4 linked regions of the Homo sapiens genome follow. The protein of the gene in region 1 interacts with the protein of each later gene in a pairwise test. Each region holds a gene or a part of one and is shown in the gene's direction. Other genes may lie near its edges. The genes, in order: LIME1, PTPN9, GAD2 and CLN6.

What was found.
Region 2: the proteins of LIME1 (region 1) and PTPN9 interact in binary tests that used the Homo sapiens proteins (3 or more experiments, as listed by UniProt).
Region 3: the proteins of LIME1 (region 1) and GAD2 interact in binary tests that used the Homo sapiens proteins (3 or more experiments, as listed by UniProt).
Region 4: the proteins of LIME1 (region 1) and CLN6 interact in binary tests that used the Homo sapiens proteins (3 or more experiments, as listed by UniProt).

The regions. Positions count from the first base shown.
Region 1 is NC_000020.11:63,731,974-63,739,603, forward strand, and holds LIME1 (lck-interacting transmembrane adapter 1), read left to right. Parts: upstream 1-4,690; 5' UTR 4,691-4,739; intron 4,740-5,559; 5' UTR 5,560-5,576; coding exon 5,577-5,674; intron 5,675-5,847; coding exon 5,848-5,929; intron 5,930-5,999; coding exon 6,000-6,087; intron 6,088-6,209; coding exon 6,210-6,526; intron 6,527-6,624; coding exon 6,625-6,927; 3' UTR 6,928-7,130; downstream 7,131-7,630. Other genes in the region: ZGPAT (zinc finger CCCH-type with G patch domain-containing protein), read left to right, coding at 1,246-1,379, 1,614-1,766, 2,672-2,851, 3,186-3,591, 3,808-3,946.
Region 2 is NC_000015.10:75,499,304-75,506,324, reverse strand, and holds part of PTPN9 (tyrosine-protein phosphatase non-receptor type 9), read left to right. Parts: intron 1-321; coding exon 322-650; intron 651-3,285; exon of another isoform or gene 3,286-3,322; intron 3,323-6,935; exon of another isoform or gene 6,936-7,021. UniProt on the Homo sapiens protein: Protein-tyrosine phosphatase that could participate in the transfer of hydrophobic ligands or in functions of the Golgi apparatus.
Region 3 is NC_000010.11:26,289,770-26,296,790, forward strand, and holds part of GAD2 (glutamate decarboxylase 2), read left to right. Parts: intron 1-2,695; coding exon 2,696-2,803; intron 2,804-3,132; coding exon 3,133-3,222; intron 3,223-7,021. UniProt on the Homo sapiens protein: Catalyzes the production of GABA.
Region 4 is NC_000015.10:68,226,729-68,234,239, reverse strand, and holds the start of CLN6 (ceroid-lipofuscinosis neuronal protein 6), read left to right. Parts: upstream 1-4,511; 5' UTR 4,512-4,655; coding exon 4,656-4,738; intron 4,739-7,511.

The DNA.
Region 1 (7,630 bases):
TGAGCATCCTTGGATTTTGGTTTGCACAGGGGGTTTCCCATGGATACCAAGAGACTACGTGTGTATGCAAGTGTGAGTGTGTATATGCATGTGTGTATATGCATGCCATGTGTGTGCATGTATGTGTATATGCATATATGAGTGAGTGCACGTGACAGTCTACACGTGAGGGTGCATGTGTGTGCGCGTGTGGGTGACTGCATATGTGTGTGCATGTGTGGGTGCGGGTGCATCTGTGTGTGCATGTTTGGGTGCGGGTGCATGTGTGCGTGCACGTGTGTGTGGATGAGAGGTCGCATGTGTGTGGGTGAGGGCGTGTGTGTGTGCATGTGTGTGGGTGAGGGGGCATGTGTGTGCACGTGTGTGGGTGAGGTGTGTGTGTGCATGTGTCAGGGTGTGTGTGCGCGCATGTGTGTGGGTGAGGGCCTGTGTGTGCGTGTGTGTGGGTGAGAGATGTGTGCGCATGTGTGTAGGTAAGGGTGCTTGTGTGCGCATGTGTGTGGGTGAGGGCGTATGTGTGTGGGTGAGGGCACGTGTGCGCGCGTGTGGGTGAGATGGCGTGTGCGTATATCCATGTATGACTGCATCTGTATTTGCATGAGTTCATGTGTGAGTGCATGTTTATACGCGTGTCAGGGTCTCTGTGTATGTGTATGACGTGTGAGTACATGTGTTAATGTGTGTGTACATGTGTATATGCCTGTGTGCATGTGTGTATGCATGTGTATACATGTGTACTTGTGTATGTGTATATGTGTATGTCTGTATATGTGTGTGTATGCCTGTGTACGTATGTATATGCGTGTGTGTATGCATGTGAGTGCATGTTTATGCGTGTGTATGTGTACTTGTGTGTGCCTGTGTGAGTGCATGTGTGTGTACATGTGTATATGCGCGTGTGCGTATGCGTGTATGTGTACGTGTGTATATGCATGTGTGTGTATATGCCTGCATGTATATGCACAAGTGTGTATATATGTGTATGTGTGAGTGTATGTGTGCATGTGTATCTGTATGTGCGTGTGTATATGTGCATGTGTGTATGTGTGCGTGAGTGTGTGCATGTGTGTGTGTATGTGTGCGTGTGTATGTGTGTGCGTGAGTGTGTGAGAGTGTGTATGTATACGCACGCGTGTGTGTCTGTCTCCCTCAGGACAGTGCCCAGGCGGATGGGTCAGTGCTCCTGGGTTGGTTTGCCCCTGGTGGCCCATGTCTGAGCCCTGCCCCTTACGGCTCTGTCTGCAGGTTCTCCCATGGGCAGGTGGTCTCTCTGGATGAGCTGCGCCCCTTCCAGGACCCAGACCTGAGCTCCCTGCAGGCCGGCTCTGCGTGTCTGGCCAAGCACCAGGATGGCCTCTGGCACGCAGCACGCATCACCGGTGAGGCTGGCCGTGGGGGCCTCCCGGGAACACCCTCCCAGGCCCCACGTGTGTTGTCACTGTGTGGCTGCTCCCTGCTTCCTTTGGGTTGAGTGTCGGGACTCTGGCTCTGGGCCCGAAATGAGCACACCTACCCTCAGCCTCTGCCCTGCCTTGCTCCTCATGTCCAGGGTGGTTCCCTTCAGTGGCACCTGCTGTCAAGGATTCTGACCTGCAGCTTGTCTCTGCCCCCAGATGTGGACAACGGCTACTACACAGTCAAGTTTGACTCGCTGCTGCTGAGGGAGGCCGTGGTGGAGGGGGACGGCATCCTGCCCCCACTGCGCACAGAGGCCACAGAGTCCGACTCAGACAGCGACGGTACGGGTGACTCCAGCTATGCCAGAGGTATGGCAGCAGCTGCGGAGCCCAGGAGCCAGGAAGGTGGGGTCACCCTGAGAGGCTCCTGGCCGGTGAGGGCACCAACCATCTAACCAAACTATTGGAGAGTGTGTGACTGCGGCGAGGGTGCCACCTGTGCCTGAGGAGGCCGTGTGGGTAGGGGTAGATCCGTGGCGGCCTTTATCTTCAAGGAGTGTGGGTGCAACAGCTACAGTCTCATTGATGGGAGGCCATGGTCGTGGCTGTGGCCATGGGAGAGGAGGGGCCTGGAGTTGCCGAGGAAGTCACAGAAAATGACCAACTGATGGGGCCTGGAGTGCAGGAGGGGCAGCTCCTCTGCATGGCTTCTCAGACTTGGGACCTGGGTGCCTGGGATCCTGGCAGACAGAGGTTGTGTCCAGACAGCCAGCATGGAAGTTTCGGGAATGGGAACTGGTGGGCAGTGTCCAGCTCTCCAGAGGGGTGTGTGTATGCGTGTGCGTGTGTGTGTATATATGTGGGAGGTCACCTGACCCAAGCATGGCGGGCTGAGTCCAGGAGGGGTCTGCATGTTGGAGGTGTACCCAGGGATCAGTGATGGTGGTTTCTGAAGCCCCATGTCCCTGGTGAAGGAGGACTGAACCAAGGACTCTGTGAGGGCAGGTGAGGCGCTCACAGCCTCGCGAAGGTGGAGAAGGGCAGGGGCAGGAGAGGGCTGCGGAGGAGGGGCCACGGTGCAGCAGGCCGTGGGGACTGCCATGCACTCTGCCTGGTGTCACATGCCCACAGCAGCCTCGGTGACGAGAGCACGGAGCCCAAGAGGTGGGGTGTCGTGGCTCTGCCCAGGATCTGAGCTCATTGGTCAAAGCCCGGGTCACCATGCACAATCCTCTGGCCTGGCTGGGCCACTGCCCTCTGTCCATCTCTTGCAGTGGTGGGGTCGGACGCCGTGGACTCTGCACAGTCCTCTGCCCTCTGTCCGTCTCTTGCAGTGGTGGGGTCAGATGCTGTGGACTCTGGGACCTGCAGCTCTGCCTTTGCTGGCTGGGAGGTGCACACGCGAGGTATAGGCTCCAGACTCCTCACCAAGATGGGCTATGAGTTTGGCAAGGGTGAGTACAAGCTGCCCTGGAGAAGTGGGCAGGCTGCTGCAGCATAGCCCAGGTCCAGCAGCCATCAGGTTCCCGGGGTCCCGCAGCCATCGGGTTCCCAGGGTCCCGCAGCCACAGCACTGCCATCCCCGTGCTCCTCAGATTCCCGGGGTCCCGCGGCCACAGCACTGCCATCCCCGTGCTCCTCAGATTCCCAGGGTCCTACGGCCACAGCACTGCCATCTCCGTGCTCCTCAGATTCCCGGGGTCCCGTGGCCACAGCACTGCCATCCCCGTGCTCCTCAGATTCCCGGGGTCCCGCAGCCACAGCACTGCCATCCCCGTGCCTCCGCAGGTTTGGGCCGACACGCGGAAGGCCGGGTGGAGCCCATCCATGCTGTGGTGTTGCCTCGAGGGAAGTCGCTGGACCAGTGTGTGGAGACCCTGCAGAAGCAGACCAGGGTTGGCAAGGCTGGCACCAACAAGCCCCCCAGGTGCCGGGGAAGAGGGGCCAGGCCTGGGGGCCGCCCAGCTCCTCGGAATGTGTTTGACTTCCTCAATGAAAAGCTGCAAGGTCAGGCTCCTGGGGCCCTAGAAGCCGGGGCGGCCCCAGCGGGGAGGAGGAGCAAGGACATGTACCATGCCAGCAAGAGTGCCAAGCGGGCCCTGAGCCTGCGGCTCTTCCAGACTGAGGAGAAGATCGAGCGAACCCAGCGGGACATCAGGAGCATCCAGGAGGCTCTCGCCCGCAACGCTGGCCGGTACGTGTGGGGCCCAGCTCAGGGCAAAGGGCGACCCAGGGTGGCCCTGCCCCCGGGATACATGCTGGAGGTCACCTGACCCAAGCATAGCGGGCTGAGTCCAGGAGGGGTCTGCATGTTGGAGGACGGGCAGCGGGCACACAGGCAGTGGGTACGGCAGACTGGGGTTGGTGGCATGGCCCAGGACCCCACGCTGACTAGTGAGCCCCTCCGCAGGCATAGCGTGGCGTCAGCCCAGCTGCAGGAGAAGCTGGCAGGAGCCCAGCGCCAGCTGGGGCAGCTCCGGGCTCAGGAAGCCGGCCTGCAGCAGGAGCAGAGGAAGGCAGACACCCACAAGAAGATGACTGAGTTCTAGAGACCCCACAAGCACTATGGACGAAGCGTGGGACCCCAGCACGGGCTGCCCTCAGGAAGACCAGTGTTGCCCGAGGAGGGGCCGGCCTGCTGGCCTGGGGCGTGCAGACACTGCTGAGTGGAGACAGAGCTGCGGGGTCCCATCTGGACACTTACTTGCCCACCTGCCAGTGTCTTGGGCATTTCCTTGGCAAGGACATTAAAGTGATTTCATCACAGTGTCATTCAGTGGAGATCAGCTGGCTGCAGGGTCTCTGGGGAGAGAAGGGTCTGTGCAGGGCTGTGGTGAGAGACGGGCTGGGCTGGAGGGGCCTAGGAGGCCGGCATTCTCCCTTCTTACCCTTCTCTGACCAAGGCAGATCGGAGGCCAGGGTGCCCGCCAGGCTGCCTGACACCCACAGATGGGTGGAGCTCAGTGCTGCTCCAGCGGGCGAGACGGGCGGGAGAGGACTGTGGCCCACCACGTGGGGCACTCTTGGTGAGGCAGGCGGACCTGGCCCTGTGGGTTTGGGGGTTCTGTGCCAGCTCTGCTCACGTCTTCGTGTGTGGAGGGGTTGTGAGTTAGGCTGTCAGAACAGTGCGGGCTAGAGGCGCACACGTTTCATCTAGGCTTCGGGCGGGGCGCAGCAGGTGGGTGAGGCTGCGGTGGTGGCTGCTGCCCAGGGTGGGAGGCTCAGGGGAGGCGCTTGGCGACAGGAGCAGGAAGTGATGAGGTGGGGAGCTCAGCCGAGGGCTGCACAAAGACCTTCCTGGCCTGCCCCAGACAGAGCTGAGGACCCCTGGCCGTGGGCTTGGTAAGTGCCCTCCTGGGGGGCAGCTGGGGTCTGGGAGGCCTTGGGATGTGGCTGCAGCTGGGTCAGTCAGCCAGGCTGAAGCCCACTCCCTGGGTCTGAGCAGACTGGCCCCAAACTCCAGAGACCACCCCTCACCCCCCAGCTTCTGTCTCTGCTGCTGGACTGTGCTGTTTGTAAGGCATCCCCCACCCCGAGAAGTTCTGCTAAGATCCCCAAGAAGGGGACAGATCCTCTCTGGCAGAGACACTGGCAGACAAGAAGAGCCAGAGAGAAGTGGGGTGGGGGCATCAGCACCCCCAGCAGCTGCTGCTGCCTGCTGACCCAGCCTCCAGCTCCTCCGGGTGCAGGGTCCCTCCTGCTGACCAGCCTCCAGCTCTTCCCAGTTCTGGGCTCCGCAGCGAGCGGCTTGGGGGCACTACCTGACACAGGAGACCATGTCTGGGCAGAGGGTGGCTGCAGGTGGAGTCTGTGGCCTGTGGCGCACACCCAGGGGCTCCCCCGATGCTGGTTACTATCTGGGCTATGGTGGCCACAGCTGTCTTGCCCCTCCTCACGGCCGTGCTGGGTGTTACCGTGGTCACCCGCAGGGACACGGAGGGGCCAGGCAGAGCAGCCCTAGTTCACCTCACCGGGAGCCCCCGCCAGAAGGTGGGCACCTCTGGGAGGGAGGGACTGCCAGGCCTTGGGGCTTCCTGTGCTGAGTCAGAGCTGGAACGGGAGACGCAGGAGCCCCGCAGCCGCGGGAGGTGCAGATTTGGGGCTGCCAGGTGGCGCCAGGTCCCCTTGGCCAGCCCCCAGCGCCCCTTTCTTCTGTCCCCAGGGCCTCGGCTTCACAGGATGGGGCTGCCAGTGTCCTGGGCCCCTCCTGCCCTCTGGGTTCTAGGGTGCTGCGCCCTGCTCCTCTCGCTGTGGGCGCTGTGCACAGCCTGCCGCAGGTAGGTCCCTCAGCCGCGTTCTGTCTGGGGCCTCGCTGCGGCTGCCATTCACAGCCCAGCGCGGGAAGGGGCTGGAGGCAGGTCCGCGCACCCAGCTCGGCACGCGCGCCTGCACCGGGCCTTGGACCCGAGGCTGACGACCCCGCCCCCCGCCCCCCACCTCTACCCCCAAGGCCCGAGGACGCTGTAGCCCCCAGGAAGAGGGCGCGGAGGCAGCGGGCGAGGCTGCAGGGCAGTGCGACGGCGGCGGAAGCGGTGAGTGCCAGGCTGTCCCGGGGACCAGGGTGGGGTCCGCAGGGCACCGACCAGCCTTCCTCGCCCCCAGTCCCTACTGAGGCGGACCCACCTCTGCTCCCTCAGCAAGTCGGACACCAGACTGCACGAGCTGCACCGGGGCCCGCGCAGCAGCAGGGGTGAGCAGAGGGCGGGGCGGGGGCGGCCGGGCGGGGCTTACTGTGCAGCGCGTGCCAACCCCTGGGCCAGACCCGCTCCTGCCCCCTGCCCGGAGTGAACTCTGCCCTGACCCCACCCCCAGCCCTGCGGCCTGCCAGCATGGATCTCCTGCGCCCACACTGGCTGGAGGTGTCCAGGGACATCACCGGACCGCAGGCAGCCCCCTCTGCCTTCCCACACCAGGAGCTGCCCCGGGCTCTGCCGGCAGCTGCAGCCACCGCAGGGTGCGCTGGCCTCGAGGCCACCTATTCCAACGTGGGGCTGGCGGCCCTTCCCGGGGTCAGCCTGGCGGCCAGCCCTGTGGTGGCCGAGTATGCCCGCGTCCAGAAGCGCAAAGGGACCCATCGCAGTCCCCAAGAGCCACAGCAGGGGAAGACTGAGGTGACCCCGGCCGCTCAGGTAACGTGGGCCAGGGTAGGGCGCTGTGGGTGGGGCCGGCAGATCCTCAGCAGGTTGGATGGTGCTGACCCCTCCTCGGGTTGGCTTCCTGTCTCCAGGTGGACGTCCTGTACTCCAGGGTCTGCAAGCCTAAAAGGAGGGACCCAGGACCCACCACAGACCCGCTGGACCCCAAGGGCCAGGGAGCGATTCTGGCCCTGGCGGGTGACCTGGCCTACCAGACCCTCCCGCTCAGGGCCCTGGATGTGGACAGCGGCCCCCTGGAAAACGTGTATGAGAGCATCCGGGAGCTGGGGGACCCTGCTGGCAGGAGCAGCACGTGCGGGGCTGGGACGCCCCCTGCTTCCAGCTGCCCCAGCCTAGGGAGGGGCTGGAGACCCCTCCCTGCCTCCCTGCCCTGAACACTCAAGGACCTGTGCTCCTTCCTCCAGAGTGAGGCCCGTCCCCCGCCCCGCCCCGCCTCACAGCTGACAGCGCCAGTCCCAGGTCCCCGGGCTGCCAGCCCGTGAGGTCCGTGAGGTCCTGGCCGCTCTGACAGCCGCGGCCTCCCCGGGCTCCAGAGAAGGCCCGCGTCTAAATAAAGCGCCAGCGCAGGATGAAAGCGGCCAGCCTCGCAGCCTGCTCTTCTTGAAAGCTGGGCGGGTTGGGGCGGGGGGCTTCTCTGGAAGGCTTGGAGCTGTCCCCTCTGGCCTTGGGGGACTGGCTGCCCCCGGGGCGCCCGGGCCTAGCCGAGGCGGTGCTCCTGCCGGCCAGACTCTCGGTCAGTGCGGGCACGGGGTCCCAGCCACTCCTAGGGGGCAGCGCAGCCGGCAGGGTGGCCGCCCCCGGGTGGGACTTGGACCCTGGACTCCACGGGAGGGCTCCGCCACCCAGCCTGGTGTTACATAAGGGGTGGTGGAGGTGGGCAGTCGAGCGTTAAAGAGTAACCTGCTGCCGGGAAGCCCGCCAAGCAATCGCGGCCCCTTCCCCGGCTCTGGCAGCTCTGCGAGCGCGCCCGTGGGGAACGGGCCCTCCCCGGCGGGGCGCGCGGGCGCGCGAGGTGGGCGGAGGCCTCGGAGCTGTGCCGGGCCGGGCCTCCCTCCCTAGGCCAGCGCGGGAGCGACC
Region 2 (7,021 bases), on another chromosome or scaffold:
ATGCAGCGATGCTGGGAAGCCTTGTTAATAATATAAAGCTTTTGTTCACTACATCGTCCTTTCAGAAGATGTATAACAGTGTCCCTAATTCCAGGAGTGAATTTTATATACATTCTGGGAGTTCACACTTTTATCTGGCAAATTCATAGGACTTAAATCTCAGGCAGATGAAATGTAGTCTACTACTTTTACAAGTATACCTTGTATTTCAAGAAAATCTTATCCCATCCTCCAAACCTGATATAAATACATTTATTCTTTGTCACTCTATATGCCTTTCCCTCCTCCCACATACTCACATGGTTCTTTCTAACCTTCCAGATTCAAATATTAAAGACATCTGAGGTCACGCAGCATCTGCCCAGGGAGTGTCTTCCAGAAAACCTGGGTGGGTACGTCAAAATTGATCTCGCCACTTGGAATTTCCAGTTCCTACCCCAGGTGAACGGCCACCCAGATCCCTTCGATGAGATCATCCTGTTCTCCCTCCCTCCTGCCTTAGACTGGGACTCAGTACATGTTCCAGGTCCCCATGCTATGACCATCCAAGAGTTGGTGGACTATGTTAATGCCAGGCAAAAGCAAGGAATCTATGAGGAATATGAAGACATTCGTCGTGAGAACCCTGTTGGCACTTTCCACTGTTCCATGTAAGTAGAAAAAGTTTGGGCCAGCAGCTGGTTACCAGGATGCTTCTGGTAGGCTCTGGCAACAGCTCCTTCCACCCCTCACTTGCTTAGCAGAGACCCTTCCTTATGTTAGGGAACATCACTCTCACATAAATGATGGTTTCTCGCATGCAGAAAGAGGTACTTTCTGCTTTGGTGCTTCTTTTTTTTTTTCTTTTTTTTTTAAATTTTTATTTTTTTTATTGATCATTCTTGGGTGTTTCTCGCAGAGGGGGATTTGGCAGGGTCATAGGACAATAGTGGAGGGAAGGTTGGCAGATAAACAAGTGAACAAAGGTCTCTGGTTTTCCTAGGCAGAGGACCCTGCGGCCTTCCGCAGTGTTTGTGTCCCTGGGTACTTGAGATTAGGGAGTGGTGATGATTCTTAACGAGCATGCTGCCTTCAAGCATCTGTTTAACAAAGCACATCTTGCACCGCCCTTAATCCATTTAACCCTGAGTGGACACAGCACATGTTTCAGAGAGCACAGGGTTGGGGGTAAGGTCACCGATCAACAGGATCCCAAGGCAGAAGAATTTATCTTAGTACAGAACAAAATGAAAAGTCTCCCATGTCTACTTTCTACACAGACACGGCAACCATCCGATTTCTCAATCTTTTCCCCACCTTTCCCCCCTTTCTATTCCACAAAACCGCCATTGTCATCCTGGCCCGTTCTCAATGAGCTGTTGGGTACACCTCCCAGACGAGGTGGTGGCTGGGCAGAGGGGCTCCTCACTTCCTAGTAGGGGTGGCTGGGCAGAGGTGCCCCTCACCTCCCGGACGGGGTGGCTGGCCAGACCCCCCCACCTCCCTCCCGGACGGGGCGGCTGGCCAGGCGGGGGGCTGACCCCCCCACCTCCCTCCCGGACGGGGCGGCTGGCCGGGCAGAGGGGCTCCTCACTTCCCAGTAGGGGCGGCCGGGCAGAGGCGCCCCTCACCTCCCGGGCGGGGGGCTGACCCCCCCACCTCCCTCCCGGACAGGGCGGCTGGCCGGGCGGGGGGCTGACCCCCCCACCTCCCTCCCAGACGGGGCGGCTGGCCGGGCAGAGGGGCTCCTCACTTCCCAGTAGGGGCGGCAGGGCAGAGGCGCCCCTCACCTCCTGGACGGGGCGGCTGGCTGGGCGGGGGGCTGACCCCCCCCACCTCCCTCCCGGACGTGGGGCTGACCCCTCCACCTCCCTCCCGGACCGGGCGGCTGGCCGGGCGGGGGGCTGATCCCCCCACCTCCCTCCCGGACGGGTCGGCTGGCCGGGCGGGGGGCTGAGCCCCCCACCTCCCTCCCGGACGGGGTGGCTGGCCCGGCAGAGGGGCTCCTCACTTCCCAGTAGGGGCGGCTGGGCAGAGGCGCCCCTCACCTCCCGGACGGGGCGGCTGGCCGGGCAGGGGGCTGACCTCACCTCCCTCCCGGACGGGGCGGCTGGCCGGGCGGGGGGCTGACCCCCCCGACCTCCCTCCCGGACATGGGGCTGACCCCCCCACCTCCCTCCCGGACGGGGCGGCTGTCCGGGCGGGGGGCTGACCTCCCCACCTCCCTCCCGGACGGGGCGGCTGTCCGGGCGGGGTGCTGATCCCCCCACCTCCCTCCCGGACGGGTCGGCTGGCCGGGCGGGGGGCTGAGCCCCCCACCTCCCTCCCGGACGGGGCGGCTGGCCCGGCAGAGGGGCTCCTCACTTCCCAGTAGGGGCGGCTGGGCAGAGGCGCCCCTCACCTCCCGGACGGGGCGGCTGGCCGGGCGGGGGGCTGACCCCACCTCCCTCCCGGACGGGGCGGCTGGCCGGGCGGAGGGCTGACCCCCCCTCACCTCCCTCCCGGACGGGGCGGCTGGCCGGGCGGGGGGCTGACCCCCCCACCTCCCTCCCGGACGGGGGGCTGACCCCCCCCCCACCTCCCTCCCGGATGGGGCGGCTGGCCGGGTTGGGGGCTGACTCCCCCACCTCCCTCCCGGACGGGGTGGCTGGCCAGGCAGAGGGGCTCCTCACTTCCCAGTAGGGGCGGCTGGGCAGAGGCGCCCCTCACCTCCCGGACGGGGCGGCTGGCCGGGCGGGGGGCTGACCCCCCCACCTCCCTCCCGGACGGAGCGGCTGGCCGGGCGGGGGGCTGACCCCCCCACCTCCCTCCCGGACGGGGCGGCTGCCGGGCGGAGACGCTCCTCACTTCCCAGACGGGGTGGCTGCCGGGCAGAGGGACTCCTCACTTCTCAGACGGGGCGGCTGCCGGGCGGAGGGGCTCCTCACTTCTCAGATGGGGCGGATGCTGGGCGGAGGGTCTCCTCACTTCTCAGACGGGGCGGCTGGGCAGAGACGCTCCTCACCTCCCAGACGGGGTCGCGACCGGGCAGAGGAGCTCCTCACATCCCAGACGGGGCAGCGGGGCAGAGGCGCTCCCCACATCTCAGACGATGGGCGGCCGGGCAGAGATGCTCCTCACTTCCCAGATGGGATGGCTGCCGGGAAGAGGCGCTCCTCACTTCCTAGATGGGATGGCGGCCGGGCAGAGACGCTCCTCACTTTCCAGACTGGGCAGCCAGGCAGAGGGGCTCCTCACGTCCCAGACGATGGGCGGCCAGGCAGAGACGCTCCTCACTTCCCAGACGGGGTGGTGGCCGGGCAGAGGCTGCAATCTCGGCACTTTGGGAGGCCAAGGCAGGCGGCTGGGAGATGGAGGTTGTAGTGAGCTGAGATCACGCCACTGCACTCCAGCCTGGGCACCATTGGGTGCTTCTTGCTAACATCCTATGCTCTGAAATTTCTGAAGGTCTTTGGTACCAACAGGATAACCCTGTTGGACATATTTTTGGATATTTTTCTGAAATGCAAGTTTTTTTTAAAAAAAGTAGGTTCAAAATAGGCTACTCTCTATTCCAGTACTCAGTGTGAGTGCTGGTCTGTTCATTTGGGCAGTTTCTCCCCATAACATTTATGGTATAACATTACTTCTTGAGGAGGGGTATGTGGTACACTTAAAATAATCCACAGTCAGAGAGTACAGTTGCCTCATAGGACTTTAACCCCTTGAGATTTTCATTCTACTCAAATCCTATCACAAAACCATCTCGCTAGTTTATAACTCTGGCTCGTAACTAGTTGATAACTATATATACATACATACATATATATATACACACCCACACACAAATTAGCTGGGTGTGGTGGCGCACACCTGTAATTCCTTCCTTCCTCCCTCCCTCTCTTTTTTTTTTCTTTCTGAGATGGAGTCTCGTTCTGTCACCCAGGCTGGAGTGCAATGGCACGATCTCGGCTCACTGCAACCTCCGCCTCCCAGGTTCAAGCGATTCTTCCTGCCTCACCCTCCCAAGTAGCTGGAATTATAGGCGCGCACCACCATGCCTGGCTAATTTTTGTATTTTTAGTAGAGACAGGGTTTCACGATGTTGTCCAGGTTGATCTTGAACTCCTGACCTCAGGTGATCTGCCTGCCTCAGCCTCCCGAAGTGCTGGGATTACAGGTATGATCTACCGCACCTGGCCTCTTTTTCTTTTTTCTCTTCTCTTCTTTTCTTCTTCTCTTCTCCTTTTCTTTTCTTTTATCCTTTTCTTTTCCTCAAATTCCTAGGTTAAAGCGATCCTCCTACTTCAGCCTCCTGAGTAGCTGGGACTACAGGTATGTGCCACTATGTCCAGCTCATTTTTTATTTTTTGAAGAGATGGGGTTTTGGCATGTTGCCCAGGCTGGTCTCAAACTCCGAGGCTCAAGTGATCCTCCTGCCTCAACCTCCCAAAGTGTTGGGATTACAGGTGTGAGCCACCGCACCTGGTCAGATTATTTCTCTTACCATGTTGCTGTCATTTCTCTTACCATGTTTTAATTGGCTGCCCCAGAAATCTCTTTCTCTCCAGCTAGTGAGCTGTGACTGTTGAAAACTACAGAAACTAGGGCTGGGGGCAGTGGCTCATGCCTATAATCCCAGCACTTTGGGAGTAAAGGTATAGGAGGATCATTTGTGCCCAGGAGTTTGAGACTAACCTGAGCAGCATAGCAAGACCCTACCTCTACAAAAATAAAAAACGAAAAAATTAGCCAGGCATGGTGGCACACTCCTGTTGTCCCAGCTATGCAGGAGGATCACTTGAGCCCGGGAGGTCAAGACCACAGTGAGTTATGATCACGCCACTGAGCTCCAGCCTAAGTGACAGAGTAAGACTTTGTCTAAGGAAAAAAAAAAAAAAAGAAAGAAAGAAAAGAAGAGGAAAAAAAAAAAAGAAAGAAAATGAGGGAAGCCATCCTAGTGGGTCCCAGCCTCATATTCCAACTTAACCAAAAATTCCCTCTGTGAGTGACACAAGTTATTTCCCTTCTCAGCACTTTGGTTTTCCTCTGTATAATATGTGACTACTGGACTCTGATATTCACCTACCTTTGTAGCTTAAATGTTTTAGAAATCTAGGATTCTGTGAGTACCTCTTCTCTCTTGTAACTCCTGTCCAGTGTAGTCAGTGTGTTCTGAATAAGATGCAGGGATAGAGTCTTTTAGCAAAGCAAAGAGGGAAAATAATGAGTTGGGGAAAATAATGAGATAGGGAAAGTAAGAGATAAGAGGCACTTGAGAAAGAAGTCAATCAGATCAAGAATGCAAAGGAAAATAAGAGGAGAAAAAGGGGACACAGACCATATATCAACAAGGGAAATTATTCTTTTCTCTCATACAGCTCTGTTTCTTCCCTACCAGCTCCAGACCCCTATTTTTATTTAATTTTTATTTCATTTTACTTATTGTATTTATTATTTTATTATTATTATTTTTTTTAGAGACAGGGTCTTGCTCTGTCCCCCAGACTGGCGCATAGTGGCATGATCATGGCTCACTGCAGCCTCCATCTCTTGATGCTCAATTGATCCTCCTGCCTCAGCCTCTTGAGTAGCTGAGACCACAGACATGCACCACCATGCCTGGCTAATTTTTTAAATTTTTTGTAGAGTCTCCCTATGTTGCCCAGGCTGGTCTTGAACCCCTGGGCTCAAGTGATCCTCCTGCCTCAGCCTTCCAAAGTGCTGGAATTATGGGTGCTACCTATACCCAACTACCAGACTCCCTGTTTATATCCAATCTCTTTTGCAAACAGAACAGTTATTCCCTTAAAGTCTTTTTTGTTGTTGTTGAGACAGTCTCACTCCATCACCCAGGCTGGAGTGCAATGGTATGATTTCGGCCCACTGCAACCTCCGCCTTGTGGGTTCAAGCCATTCTGTGCCTTAGTCTCCCAAGTAGATGGAATTACAGGTGTGTGCCACCACACCCAACTAATTTGTGTGTGTATATATATGTGTGTGTGTGTGTGTGTGTGTGTGTATGTATGTTTGTTTATTTATTTATTTATTTATTTTGAGACAGAGTCTCACTCTCGGCCAGGCTAGAGTGCAGTGCCACGATCTCAGCCCACTGCAACCTCCATCTCCCGGCTCAAGCAATTCTCCTGCCTCAGCCTCCTGAGTAGCTGGGATTACAGGCGTGTGCCACCACACCCGGTTAATTTTGTATTTTTAGTAGAGATGGGGTTTCACTGTGTTGGCCAGGCTGGTCTCAAACTCCTGACCTCGGGTGATTCGTCCTCCTTGGCTTCCCAAAGTGCTAGGATTACAGGCGTGAGCCACCATGCCTGGCCTAATTTGTGTATTTTTAGTAGAGATGGGGTTTTGCCATGTTGGCCAGGCTGATCTCGAACTCCTGACCTCAAGTGATCTGCCCACCTCAGCCCTGCAAAGTGCTGGGATTACAGGCATGAGCCACTATGCCCAGCCTCCCTTGCAGTCTTGAATCAAGGAAATATGTTGGAGCAGGGAGGCATGCTAGGCTGATCTAAGAGGATGCACACTTATCCTGGGGATTCTTCACCTTGCTCTCGGTGCTTTTGCAACTACCAGCTGCTGTGAGGCCCTTGAGATGTCATTTCTACTATGGAGTCTCCCCTCCTCCATTAAAAAAGTGGGTTTGGCTGGGCGCGGTGGCTCACGCCTGTAATCGCAGCACTTTGGGAGGTTGAGGCTGGCAGATCACGAGGTCAAGAGATTGAGAACATCCTGGCCAACATGGTGAAACCCCGTCTCTTCTAATAATACAAAAATTAGCTGGGTGTGGTGGCACGCACCTGTAGTCCCAGCTACTTGGGAGGCTGAGGCAGGAGAATCACTTGAGCCCAGGAGGCGGAGGTTGCTGTGAGCCAAGATCATGCCACCGCACTCCAGCCTGGGCGATAGAGCAAGACTCTGTCTCAAAAAAAAAAAAAAAAAAAAAAAAGTGGGTTTAGATCGTCTTGTTGCCATCATCCAAACCAGCTACCATTTGACAATCAGAGAACAGATCTCTCATCTAATGAGAGGACTTCCTAGTCTT
Region 3 (7,021 bases), on another chromosome or scaffold:
TTAAAATTACATCTCCCCCCCACCTTTTTTTTTTTTTTTTTGAAATGGAGTCTTGCTCTGTTGCCCAGGCTGGAGTGCAGTGGCGTGATCTCAGCTCACTGCAGCCTCCATCTCCCAGGTTCAAGCGATTCTCCTACATTCCCTTTTCAGGCCTGCAGGAATAACTTCATTTATAACAACCAAGGTTTCATAGCAAATCTCTGTGTTTGTATGTAGTCATACAAATAGTCAGTTTTCCTTGTGGTTTTTTTATGATTAGCTTTTCTAATTAAAAATGTGGATAACAGAGGGACTGGCAAATGGCTGTGAAAAAAAATACCAGGAAAAAAATATTAAAGGGAAATGGACATCTGGCATCCTTTGCTGAAAATGAATGTTTACTTTCTCTCTAAAATATTAATTTATTTTAACAAGTAGATATTCAGCATCTATTATCGTGTCTAGTACTGAATGGGATAAGAAGGCTCTCATTTTCCAGACAAGATAAGATAAATGCACAGAAATCCATCATAAAAGACAGATTAGGACTGATCACAAAAGAAATCCAGACACATCTGGGGAATTTAAAGGACGGAGAGCTCATTCCTGGTTTAAGAATCAAGATGATTCACAAAGAGATGACCTTTGAGATAGGACTTGAACAGGATAGGTAGAAGAAGTAGGATTTCACCCAGCAGTGCTGTGAGAAGGCCATTCCACGGAGTGGTTGAGCAGGAGTTCAGTGCATATTATGAAAGTGAGGGAAAGTCTAATTGACTGAAGGGCGACTTGGGAGCTATGTTCCAGGTGAAAAGTAACAGAGCCTGAACTAGGGTGATAGCAGCAAAAATTGAGATAACAGCAAGGGATTCGGTAGTTATTTCAAAAGCACTGTCTCTGGGGCCTGTGAATGTTTATAAAAGCATTTCAAGAAGTGGAGAATGATCATGACCAGCTCTCAAGATGTCAAACCCCAAGACCACATAGAGGCAGCAGCTGAACACTTGGATGGTGAGATTGCTGAAGTATTTAATGAATGAAAGAATTTTGAAGAATCTCCTAAAAGCCTTCAAAACCTTGAAAATAAAATGTGGATCTTAATCCCATAAATATTCAATATGAACGGGAGGCACCCAGGGCACACTAGAGTTTTCTGTGTCATTCCCCATGTATATCTTTAGCCCCCAACTAAAGGGGCAGTCACATGGCCCATGATCATCCCCATAGCAAGGTCCCAGACCAGGGGAACCAGAGGTCTTTAGTAATCCCATTGCTGTTGCAGTGCAAACTCTTCTTCATGGGAAATCAGAGAGGCATCATCATTCCCATCTGATCAGAGAGTTGGCCAAAGCCATTCATCTGGACAGGGTCAGAGGCAAGCTGGTCATGCCATATCCTAGATCAGATATGCAAAAGTTTAAACCCAACTCCAGACTGGTCCAAAGGATCCAGGTTGGAGAAGAGCAATTAGCTTCCCTCACTTCTACCTACAGTCCATCCCAAGTGAACCCAAACTGTCAGGTCATTCCAAACCAATTATAATCTCCTTAGCACCCATAGATGCAGAGAGCTCCTGGTATGGGTGCTGGCCAAGCATCAGGCATCAGCCCAAGCTCTTCTTGGGGAGGCATCAGGAACCCATCAGCCTCCTTGAGCCGATTACCTGGGGGAGCAGTCTCCAAAGAAGTGAATTTCTGAACCCATTTGATATCTCCAGGGCAGCTTGTTCTTAAACCTGCTTCAGATGTCACAAGTCACTGGGCTATGTTGGGCCCCCTTAGCTGAGATGATGTGATCTTGTATGAAACAGGCAAGTGGGCCCATCTCATCTCCATTACAATTGCTTTCTCTAGGTTCTCTGCTGGAGAAGTTACTGGTAGGCAGGTTCAAAGTGCTTCTGAGATGAGCACTGGCTTTTACTCTTAAGCTTTCTCCATCAGCACCCAGTAAACACCCAAGGAGATAAGAGGAAAGCCATTTTGAAAAGTAACTCTCTTGTGTGTCCCGATGTCAGTTAAACAGCTCCAGTCCAAGACTGTTGTGTTGGTTTTCCCAAGTCTGGATTCAGAGCTTCCAGAGCCAGAAACTAAAAGAAATCAGTGATAATGTTCACCCATTACAGACACGTGAGTCATTTATCTGCCCCCAAAGGAGAACTGTACAGAGCTCGACAGGCTAACAAAGCATCTGGGTGCTCCCTAAAATTCCTGCATCCATTTGTTCAATGAAGTCAGTGAGCACCTACCCAATTTTTTCTGTATCAGGTACACTGGCAGACAAAGATGGGCTCTGGGAATGGAAAATGTGCACGTTGGAGGGGAACTAAGCAGGCATTCTGGGGGGTCTCTGGTGATGCTTTTTATCTGCAGGAAGAGAGTAGCTCAGCCCTCCTGTTATTAATGACTTCCATGATTATTCCTATGAATAGCAGAGGCACATTTTCCTCTTGAGTAGTCAAACTAATTGCCTGGGGAATGGAGGCTCTGGAAGAAAAGGAGTTCCGTGTAGAAAGCAGTAATGAAAGGGAACAAAAGCACCTGACGGGGAGAGCATTGAAGAGAAAATAGCGCTGAAAAAGCCTTTGGAAACAGCCTTGTGTTGAGAAAGTGCCAGACGGGGCTAAGACAGAGACGGCAGGATGACGGTCAGTCTCCAGGGAAATCGCTTCCTCCGCACTCTTAGCCTGCTTAATGAGCTGTGTCCTTCTCTTACCTAGGGGACTACCGGGTTTGAAGCGCATGTTGATAAATGTTTGGAGTTGGCAGAGTATTTATACAACATCATAAAAAACCGAGAAGGATATGAGATGGTGTTTGATGGGAAGGTATGTATTTGGATTTCTACAATCTCAGAAAGTTTAGTCAATTCCAACCCTCATCACTGATATGATGTAAATGATGTGCTGTCCAGGTAAGTGGGACGATTACAGAGGGGAGCAGTGGATGACGGGGTAGCTATTCCAAGCTGGAATAAAGACGAAACTCTCAAAGTGGTCCATATAACGTTGTCAAAATCATGCCCTCCAATGGCAATTCCTGATTGAAAAGTGGGAATTGTGTTCTGAACCTGCTGAATACATCGATTTGAAATGTTCTTGGAATTTTCAAAATTGCCAGCCTGGGCCAAATGTGAATCTTCCTTTCCTCTTTGTAGCCTCAGCACACAAATGTCTGCTTCTGGTACATTCCTCCAAGCTTGCGTACTCTGGAAGACAATGAAGAGAGAATGAGTCGCCTCTCGAAGGTCAGTGCTCCAAGCTCCTCTGATACATGTGTGTATTGAGCCTTTCATGTGCACATCTTCTTTATGACATATGCCTGTGGCCTTAGGAGACAGCCTACCTGGGTACATGGGCCCATTCCCGTCTGTGGACTCCTACAGAGCCAGGACATATAGAGCCTGATATATGCAGACATTTTTCTTCTTTTTTTTTTTTTTTTTTTTTTTGAGATGGAGTCTCACTGTGTCTTCCAGGTTGCAGTGCAGTGGCGTGATCTCAGCTCACTGCATCCTCCACCTCCCGGGTTCAAGCGATTCTCCTGCCTCAGCCTCCCGAGTAGCTGGGAATACAGGCACTCACCACCACGCCCAGACAATTTTTGTATTTTTAGTAGAGATGGGGTTTCAATATGTTGGCCAGGCTGGTCTCGAACTCCTGACCTCAGGTGATCTGCCCACCTTGGCCTCCCAAAGTGCTGAGATTACAGGCATGAGCCACTGTGCCCGGCCTATGCAGACTTTTAACAACTCTATTTGCTTGTTTTCTGAGAGTGAGTTTATGATGTCTTGAAAGAAGTAGTCAGGCGATAACCTTTGCTGGCATTCACAAAGCAACAAGGACGTTGCTGAAGTTCATTGATGTTCCAAGTGAAACTGGTGCTCAGTTACAAGCACAAAAGAGACTTTAGGTACCAGAAATGGTTAGCAAACAACGCTGCTGCTGACCCTCTTGAGCTGCCAAGGTCAAGGCTACCCTGGGTGTGTCCTTAGAGCTGTGGTGACCCCTAGAAGGTAAGAGGGCAAAGAGCAATAATAACAGCCACTGTTTTGAGTGTGCATTGTGTCCCAGCTCAATATCAGGTGTTAGGTCACTTAAAGCCTCAGAGCAACCTGACATGGGAAGGATTGTCCACCCATCTTGCTGATGGAGAAACTGACCCACAGGGAGAAAATGTAACTCCCAAAATCTCGCAGAAAGTCTGCATCCGAGCCTAAGGGCTTGAGCTTTAAATGGTACTGTGGTAAGACACCATTAATCTTTCATCCTCTCCTGCTCCCAGCACTTATACATGGGTGAAATGGGGTTTACAGTGCACATCGAAGCGGGGTATATGCAGGACCTGTCCCCCATTCGAAACTAGGGATGGTCATGTAGACTTGGATCTCAGAGTTGATTTGGTTGGTTTGGGGGTTCTTTTCATTTATCATAAAAGAGGGAACCTCCTCCAGTCACTGCCAAGAGCCCCGCAGGCTGTCCCCTCACTGCTCAGGAGCTTGGGCTGTCTCACTGACCTTTGGGAACACTTTAGTTCCTTCTACGTAAAATGAAGAAGAGGATTTTGTGTAGATATAAAACCTTCACTAAAGCTTTTATGTGTTAACATCTGTCCTTAAGCAACCCAAGATCAAACTCCTCATCGGGAGGAAACTTCCATATGGCTGAGGTCTTTAAACCAAGCCTCCTAATTAGAGTAGTGATTTGCAATCCTGGCCATACATTAGAATCATCCAGAAACTTCATAAAAGACACTAGTGACCAGGTCTCACCCTGAAAATGTAATCAGATTGTGCTTGGATGGGCCTGGGAATGATTCTGGAAGTTATCTAGATGATTCCAATGTGCACCTCAGCTAGAGAACCCCTGATCTAGAGGAAAAAATGGAAGAAAGCTTCTAGAACCAGGATCCGTGGTGCATGTGTCTGAGATGGAAGGGGCTGTGGTTGTGTTTGATGATTTCGTGAAGTTGGTTCATTCCAGGAAATCAAGCCCACAGGGTGGGAGGGAATGAGTAGAGGTCGCATTGGATAAGATGATCGGTGCAGGCAATAACAACGAGAATAGGGGGTGCGGGTGTCTGCTGTCATTTGAGAGGAAAAAATTCTTATTTTTCCTGGAATTTTTATGGTATACCTTCATAATGTAAAATTTCTTAACAATGACTTATTTAACCAGTTAGAAATTAGATGCCTCCATTCTTTTTGGCTTTCACTTCCTTATTGAACTGACTGGCCAGAAAGAGAATCCATGGACTAGTTTGGCTGATTTCATTTGTTGAATCAGTCCATTATCACTGGGCTGAGGGATGGAGCAAGATGGGAATACAGAATAAAAACTTTTTTTTTTCATCATTTTCTGAACAAAAGTCAACTTGGAGGCTCCCCCTTTTAAATATCACTCTTCAAATGCCTCCTAGGTTTCAGCACCTCATATGAGCTGTAATGAAGAATGGGGATGGAGATTATTTCCTGGAGATGGCAATTAGAATATTAGTAAACTGTTTTTATACTGTTGACAATTCAAATATGAAAATCTCCGGGGATTGCAGAATGAATTCTCCTGATTTTTCTCCAATTTTATTACTGTAATCAAGAGAATTCAGCAATTCAGATTTGGAAATGAAAATAGAACCACATGAATACCAAGTTTAACTTTTGTTCACGTATGCCAATGATTTTTTCAGACTTTCTGGAAAGTTCTTTATTAAGTGTGACGCCCTTAAAGTATCATGTCCAGGAACCAGTAAAATATTCATACGCATGCACACACACACACACACACACACACACACACACACACACAGTCCCAGAGGGAAAAGAACTGAGGTGAAATAATCTATGCTGTCCAGTATGGTAGTAATAGCCACATGTGGCTATTCATATTTAAATTTAAATCAATTAAAATTAAATTCAACCAAAAATTTGGTTCTTCAATCACACTAGCCACATTTCAGTCACTCAACTTGTGCCCAATGGCTGTTTTATGGGACAGTGCAGATATAGAACATCTCCATCACTGCACAGAGTTCTGTTGGTCCAGGCCGATATAGACTCAAAATTTGGGGAAATGCAGAGTTTCCTGTGCAGTTTATGTGAACCAAAAGAACAAAGTTAAATTCTGGACAAGACAAGGCAGAGAAATTACTCTGTACCATCTTGCCTGATTCATAGCTGTAGTGCACAATAGGAACTCAAAAATCGTTTGTTGAGCTAAAATTGTATCTTAGCGTGGTTGAGCTGCAAAAACAGACTAATATAGACTGGGTAGCTTATAAGCACAGAAATTTATTTCTCACTGTTCTAGAGGCGGGGAAGTCCAAGATCAAGGTGCCAGTAGATTCCGTGTCTGCTGGAACCCCTACTTCCTGGTTCGTCAATGGCCTTTTTCTCCCTGTATCCTCACATGGCAGAAAGAGGTCAAGGGAGCTCTCTGGGGTCCCTAAGACTGTGCCTTCCTGAACTAATCACCTACCAAAGGCCCTATCTCCTAATATCATCACATTGAGGGGTTAAGATTTCAACATATAAATTTTGGGAGGACAGAAAAATTCAGTCTATAGCAAATACCTTAGGCATATTCCAGAATAAGGAAGGGAAACAACATTTAGGAAACCTAATAGTGGCTCATAAGCCTTTTTCCAGAGTGCACTATTTGGGGACAAATATCTGGATAACAGAAGTTATTAATAAAGCAAATACAGTCATATCTTCATGAGGGTGGTAAACACGAGAATCCAGTCAGTGTGCTTCCTGCTGCTCTGTCAGGACTATGATCTTGCAGATGGCGCTTTGTCCCTGAGGCAGTGCAGATGATGAATGCTTGGGGCACTATGAGGATGTGACGCCACACACATGCCTTGGACACAGGGAGGGGCAGCAAGTGGGCTGTGCCAATGTTTACCAAACAAGAATCAAAAGGGCTGGTCTATTGATCACCTCTTGTGTTTCTGGTTCTTTATCTTCTTATTTTAATTTTTTTTATTCTTGATCATTATCTGGTTCTGTCAGCTTTTATAGTCCTACACTGATTGGAGGACTTTTCAAA
Region 4 (7,511 bases), on another chromosome or scaffold:
CGGCTGCTGTATTTCCTGGAAAGCCAGGAAAGCCAGTCTGCAGGGAGAAAGAGAGAAGGATGACATGGAAACAGTGTTGTGGGTGGTGCCTTCCTGGGCTCCCAAAGTCCCAGCACCATTCTCAGTTCCTGAGGCCCAACTGCATCCTTATGCTTAGGTTCCCTAAGACACCCCTAAATCCTTGTAATAGAAATCCCCTTTTGTCATCAACCTGTCCCCCGTTGCTTCTAGTAATCACAACCACAAGAATCTGAATTAAACACAACCTGGGGACCTTCTCTCTCCCCACAGTGTGACTTCTGGTCACCCTCCCAGCTTCTTCAGCCAGATGGGGAGTGTCCTGCAGGCAATACCAGTTGACACAGAAAGACAGTCTCCATCTTCCCCCAGTGCCCCAGTCCCTTGCTGTCTGTCCTTGTGCAGCCTTCTCACTGTGCACAGTCTTGTTGCCCACACTTAGAGATCCCCTAGTCAGGCCCCTCCTGGCTGCCTCTCTCCAAAGTAACTGAGTTTTCCTGGTCCCACTTCGTCTGTCTGCCTTCTGGAGTCCCAGCCTCTGGATCCAGGATTCTGTGTGTCATGTCTCTCAGATGGTAGCTGCAGTCTAGCAGGGGCCTTCAAAGCCTTCTGGTGGCAGGGCAGTGTGGGAAGATGTTTTGAAGAAAGAGAAATTTTCAAAAGCTCTTAAGAGACTGGATAGAAAGGGTACTGGATTAGGAGTGGAGACTGGATTCTGGCCTGGCTTGGCTTCTAACTCGCTGTGTGGCTTTAGGCTTCATTTTCCGCAGCTGCAGAATGATGAAATTAGGCAAGATCAAAGGCTTTCCAGGGAGCCCTTTGGAGGTGACTTGGCCACGGCCTTGTAACCATAAGGGGAGAAGAGATGGCACCTGGGACCCTGCTTCTCTTCACTCAGGGCACCACCCCCCCCACCCCCCCGTAGGTGTTTCATACATTGAGCATGCTGGAAAGATCTTTGTCTTAGCCCAGGTTTCCAAAGAAGCAGAGCAGGGCAGCATGTATGCTAACACTGTATTGGGGAGTGTGGTGGCTGGGAAGGGGAAGTGAGGACAAGGGGGAGTGAGACAGAGGAGAAGGGAGGGCACACAAGAGAGTGCACTGCGGAGCTGGCCACCACTCCGTCTGGAAGGATGCTAGACCTTACAGGACCTTCTTTATTATTTATTTATTTATTTTGAGACTGAGCCTTGCTCTGTCGCCCAGACTAGAGTGCAGTGGCGTGATCTCGGCTCACTGCAACCTCTGCCTCCTGGGTTCATGCAATTTCTCCTGCCTCAGCCTCCCAAGTAGCTGGGATTACAGGCACATGCCACGACACCCAGTTCGTTTTTGTATTTTTAGTAGAGACAGGGTTTCACCATGTTGGTCAGGCTGGTCTTGAACTCCTGACCTCACGTGGTCCACCCACCTTGGCCTCCCAACGTGCTGGGATTACAGGTGTGAGCCACTGCGCATGGCCCAGGACCTTCTTTAAAGTGGCTGTGTGAACTCGGAACTCAGGCCAGTCTGTCCAGAAAGAGGAAGAGAGAAAAATTTATTTGCTAATCCCTGTCTCTTGCTGGTCAAAGTTCACTCCATGGAGTGTCCAACACTCCTGCACTTCTGAGGCCAAGGGTGTGGGGCCAAGGGGAGAGGAGGTGCAGTTGACTTCTGCCTGGGTGAAGTCAGTTGTCACAGCAGCTGGACAAAACAAGTGGCAAGGAGCTGGAAGACTGGTGTGTCTAACGGATCTTAGGCGATACATTTAAAAGTATCTGATACAGGCCTGGTGCAGTGGCTCACGCCTGCAATCCCAGCACTTTGAGAGACTAAGGCGGGCAGATCACAAGGTCAGTAGATCAAGACCAGCCTGGCTAACATGGTGAAACCCCGTCTCTACTAAAAATATAAAAAATTAGCCAGGCGTGGTGGTGCATGCCTGTAGTCCCAGCTACTTGGGAGGGTGAGGCAGGAGAATCACTTGAACCAGGGAGGCAGAGGTTGCAGCAAGCCGAGATCGTGCCATTGCACTCCAGCCTGGGCGACAGAGCAAGACTCCGTCTCAAAAAAAAAAAAAAATATCGGATACAGCTATAATTGAAAAGTAGTGGGAACCTCTACTAAAAGAAAAGTCAAAACCACCAAGATGCATAATACCAAAGGACCTTCTCAGCTGAAAGATTTCTTGATGCTGGCCACTGAAATTGCAGCTCAGAGAGCTGAGACTAGACTCCCTTCTGATGTGCAGGGCCCATGTTCTCAGATAATCACAAACAAGATCCTGCAAATGTGTACCCCTCAGCTTTACTCTATCCTCCTCCCCCAAATTTCCATGCAATTTAAAGAGCTAATGAAGATGGTGTTTTTAAAGTGTCCTGGTGGGATGGGAAAGAGAGGGGGCTGATAATCCCACCGGACAGGGAGAATTCTCATCTTGTTCATTCAGAAAGGCCCAGCCCCCTGCCAGGTTGGACTCCCCTCCCCTCAAGGGGTAGCAGCGGACTCCAGAAAAAAGGCAGATGTGTTTGTATTTAAGAGATTGGAGGATTAAATGAGCTAGAGAGGCTCCCTCCACACGGCCTCATCCTCTGATGGCTGGAAGCCCACCTCTGAGTGTTATTAAATCGATGATGACATCATGGGCACTGCATGCCCCTCCCTCTGGAGCCCAGCAGGCTTGCAAAGCCTGCAGAGGATAAGAAATTGGGGTCAGAGCGGGAAGCCTCAATCCTTCTTCTCTGGTGTATACCGAGATCGATGTGTAGATCAGATTCACCAGAATTAAATCTGGGGCCCCGTCTGAGTGCTGTCCTTGGCTGACCCTTGGGCACAGTACTTCAGCTCAGGGCCTAGGTTTTTCTCTGCTACAAAACAGAGACAATCACCTGTTCTCCTTACGACCTGGTGTGTGTGGATCAAATGAAACAAGGAAAGCTTTAAAGCAAATGTGTTCTTCAGGGGACCAGGGGCGGAGGGGGGGGATTGAGGTGTGGCCTGTGGGCTGCTAGAGCCCAGGATGGGGCTGATGGAAAATGACTCCCAGGCAGGCAGTCCTAGCCTCCCACAGCCAAGAAAGGACATGCAGGTTCTGACCAAAGGGGAAAGAAATAAATCCAATAAACATCTCCCAAGAAGAAAGACAGGAAAGAAAATAGAATGGAAATAGGCATAGCTCAGACCCCTCATGGTCTGGGAAGCAGACCAAGGATACTGGGCAGGGGAATGGCACATTGCATTTGCATCTGAGGCACATCCCTTCCAAGAGGCACATCCCTTCTGCAGCGGCTTGAGGGCTGGGTGAGAGGAGACAGGACTGGAGACCTGCACATGTCGTGTGCGCCTGGTGTAGCACGGGGGTGGTGGGGAGAATGGGAGTTGGTTGCAGTTGTTCTAGTTAGCGGCCTGGGCTGCTGACAGTGACCGTGGGGAGGAGAGAGTTTGTGACATTGACAGTGGTGTGGAAGGTAACCTTTCTGTGGAGGGAAACCTCAGGTCTCGAGACGGGCTATTGTAAATAACTTAGTCCACCAGTGCTGGGCTCTCTGCTAAGAGTTTCATATAGTCATCACAACTCCAATGTAGTAGATGCAATAGGCATCTTCTTGTTACAGATGAGTAAACTGAAGCTGTGAGGGGTTGAGCCATTTGCCCGCATCACAGCTAGTTCAAAGTGGTACCACTAATGAAGTCCTGGCAATCTGCCCTGCAGGCTGTTCTCAGGTTTGACCTTTGGTTCTGTTTTTCACTTGAGGATGCTGTCCCCTTAGGTTCTGTCTGTCTTGTATGCTCCGGTGACTCACGAGCCTGTCCACTGGGTTCCCAGGTCTCGCCTCAGCTTCAGACCACCGGTCCAACAGCCTTCCTGACCCACCTCAAGCTTAATGCGTTCAAAGATGAATCTTTATTTACACGAAATCTGCTCTAGCCCACTTCCCGGGGGGTGCCTCCACTATCCACCCAGGGGCAGAATCCGGCCACTGCCTGAACTCTTCTCCCCTCACCCCCCACATCCAGAGTCCCAGTCACCATACCTCTCACACGACTCTAGATGTCACCAACTCGCTCCTTCCCACTGTCACCGCCAGCCCCTCACTAGAACATCTGCAACCCACGTGCTGCACCACGCGGGTGCTACACGTGCAGGTCTCCAGTCCTGCCTCCTCTCCTCCACCCGTAAGAACAAGGGAAATCCCACAGAACCCTCTGCCCCGGGGAGCATTTAAATCAGCTTAGTCTATCTCCAGGTCGCTACCCCGCCCCAGCCCAACACCCAGGCCTCAGTCACCCTAGACAGAGATTCCCGTACCCAGGCAGGCAAGGGACCCTAACACATCCCAGCCCGCTGGTGGTCACGCGCGCAGCCCGGACAGGCCAGCAGCCCCCGCCCCGCGAGGACGCCACACTCGCAGCGCCCGGCCCTCCCCTAGCGGAGCCCGCCCCGTCTCCCTCCGCCCCGCCTCCCTCCGCTCCGCTCCGCTCCGCTCCGCCCCGCCCCGGGTCCGCAGCCCCGCCTGTTCCTCCCGAGGGCCGCGCGCTCTCGCCGGCCCGCCCCGAACCGCCCCGCGCTGGGAATTTGCGGCGGCCTCCGCCGGGGCAGCCGAGCTGAACCGGTCTCTTCCTCGGAAAGGCAGGGCCGAGGGGCCTGCGGGGCAGCCATGGAGGCGACGCGGAGGCGGCAGCACCTGGGAGCGACGGGCGGCCCAGGCGCGCAGCTGGGCGCCTCCTTCCTGCAGGCCAGGTGGGCGCGCGCCGGGGTGAGAGGGCGGGCTAGGCGCCTGTGCGCTGGGGCCTCGGGACCCGCCACGTGACGCTCCTAGGGCTGCCGGGCGGGAACCTCGTGTGCGGCGCTGGCCGGGGCGGAGCGGAGCGCGGGGGGCTTGGAGGCGCGCTACCGTGGCGGCGGTGCCCCCGCGTTTCCTTCTCTGTCTGGGGAGCCTGGGGCCCAGCGGGGCTCGGCCTCCCCGCTTCGCCGTTGCTCGGGTGGGAGGAGCGCCCGCCCGAAGTTTGGGGTTTTCCTCCCTTCCCGCGTTCCAGCGACCCGGGCTGGCGCCGGGACAGCCGCTGCGCTGGGAGAGCTCCCCAGGGCGGTGGGTACACACACCTCGTCACTCGGACCCCCAACTTATCCGCAAGTTCCGGGCGCCACCTCCGCGTTCTCGGGGTCCCTCCAGCCCTGAGTAGGACTTGATTCTGTCATTTATCAGGAGGCTGTCTGCTTGACCTGGGGCACCCAAGAATGTGCGAATGTAATGGAAGAGACAGCGGGGAAGGGCGGAAGCTGCCGTCCAGAGAATGAATGAGGAGCCCTTCTCAGTTTTTGGTTTATCTCGTTGGGCGAGCAGAGCTCCATTCTACCTTCGTCCCGTTTTACTGACCAGAAACATTCACTGCATTCAGCAGGCATTCTTTAAGCGCCTGTGGTATGCCCAGCGCTGTGCCAGGCAGTAAGGGGGTAGGCAGGGTGAAGGTGGGAGAGGCTTACGGTCCTGTAGGGATCAGGAGAGACAGAGCCCAAGTGGGAGTGAGCGGTCATCTTGGAGGGCTTCATGGAGGAAGTGGCACTTGAGCTGAGTCTCAGAGGACTTGGTAGGGGACCCAGGGAAGACAGGCTGTTCCATCCAGGGAAACAGTGGGGAAGGGCAAGGAGTTTAGTGGTGCTGGAGCTTTCCGGCTGTAAAAGAAAGTGACAGGAGGATGCAGACTGATTGTGAAGGGCCTTTAATTGCAGCAAGTCTAGGACTCGAGTTGAGGACCTAGATTGCAAAACTTAGGGGTAGGCGCACTGCCGTGACCGTGAGTGCCGCCTCAAATGTTGGGCCTTGGAGGCCTTGCTTGTCTCACCCTAGTTCCTGTCCTAGGTGACAGGTTAAGGACACAGTCTTTATCCCATAGGCACTGGGGAGTCGTGAGAAGTTTCTGAGCACTAGCATGCGCAAAGTCCTTGTTAGGAAGTTTTTGGTACGACCTGGATGAAGGGAGAAGTCTGAGCGCTTGGGCTGAGGTGAGGGATGGCTCGTTTCTGCTGCTGCGGACATGCGGGCTGAGCAGCTGCGGACTGTGTCCGTTTTCACTTAGAAACAATGTACTGGCCATAGACCGCATACTGTAGCTCACCTGTCTCCCTCGGCCTGTGAGTTAAGTATTATTTTACTGATGAGGAAATAGGCTTAGATGGGCTGAGGAGCCTGACTGGCTGAGTCCCCGGGCTGTCTGCCCCACGCCGTGTCCAGTGGTTTCATCTCTGCTGTGACCCAACCCATTTACCAGCTCCCCTCTTCCAGGCAGCCTCTTCTGCCTGCGGGATGTCTCTGTTCCGAATCCTTGCCAAGTTGGGGGTCACTGACTGCCCTGAACTGTGACAGCCCAATGGGAACAGCCTGTGGGTCTCAGATAGGGTCACCACTTTATCTCCTGTGTGGGGCTCCCATGTCTAGCATCTTACTCAGTCTTGACAATGAGCTGCCAGATGTCACTTCCAATGTACAGATGGGGAAATGGAGGCCCAAAGAGGTTACATCATTTGCTGGCAAGAACCAGGGCCTAAACCCAGGGTTTCTGACTTACGGGCTCTGCTCTTACGACTCCACTTTGGCTGCTAAGGAGTCATGTCCCTCTTCCCCTGTGTGAGCTCCCCACCAGCCAGGGTATTCCCAGGGGGGTGGTGTGAGGGTGGGAGCTCTCTGTCTCCCAGGGTGTCTCTGCCCCCCACAATGTGGCTTCAGCCCATTCCCAGTATCATTGCTGCTCAAGAGAGTAGGCAGAATCATCCTGTCCAGTTCCTAGGATGCTTGGATTTCCTCTGCTGCATCCGTGCTTTGCTCACTACCTCTTAAGGTAACCCATTCCAACGTCCACCTGCTTTGTTGCCAGTTTTTGTATTATAATGAAAGTGTTACAATTAGGCCGGGTGCCATGGCTCACGCCTGTAATCCCAGCACTTTGGGAGGCCAAGGTGGGTGGATCACTTGAGTCCAGGAGTTCGAGACCAGCCTGGCCAACATGGAGAATCCCCGTCTCTACTAAAAAATACAAAAATTATCCAGGTGTGATGGCCCATGCCTGTAATCCCAGCTACTCAGGAGGCTGAGGCACCAGGATCCCTTGAGCCTGGGAGGCGGAGGTTGTAGTGAGCCGAGATGGCGCCACTGCACTCCAGCCTGGATGACAGTGAGACTGTCTCAAAAAAAAAAAAAAGTAAAAAAAGAAAAGAAAAGAAAGTATTATAATTAGTGCCCGTGATAAATCAAATAGCAAAGGCTTCAAGTTTTAAAAAGTAGTAATCCCTGTCCCACTCTTCCCTAGCACCAGAGACAATCACCCTAGCTTCTTTTAGCTCTTTTTTCCAGAGTCAAATTCCTATTTCCAAATAATATGTTTATAACAATAAAAAACACTAGCACTTTTTATGGATCAGGCCCTGCTCTTAAGTTTTTGCATGTATTAATTAAACCACGACCCTTGAGATACGATCTACTGGCCAGGTGTGGTGGCTCATGCCTGTAATCCCAGCA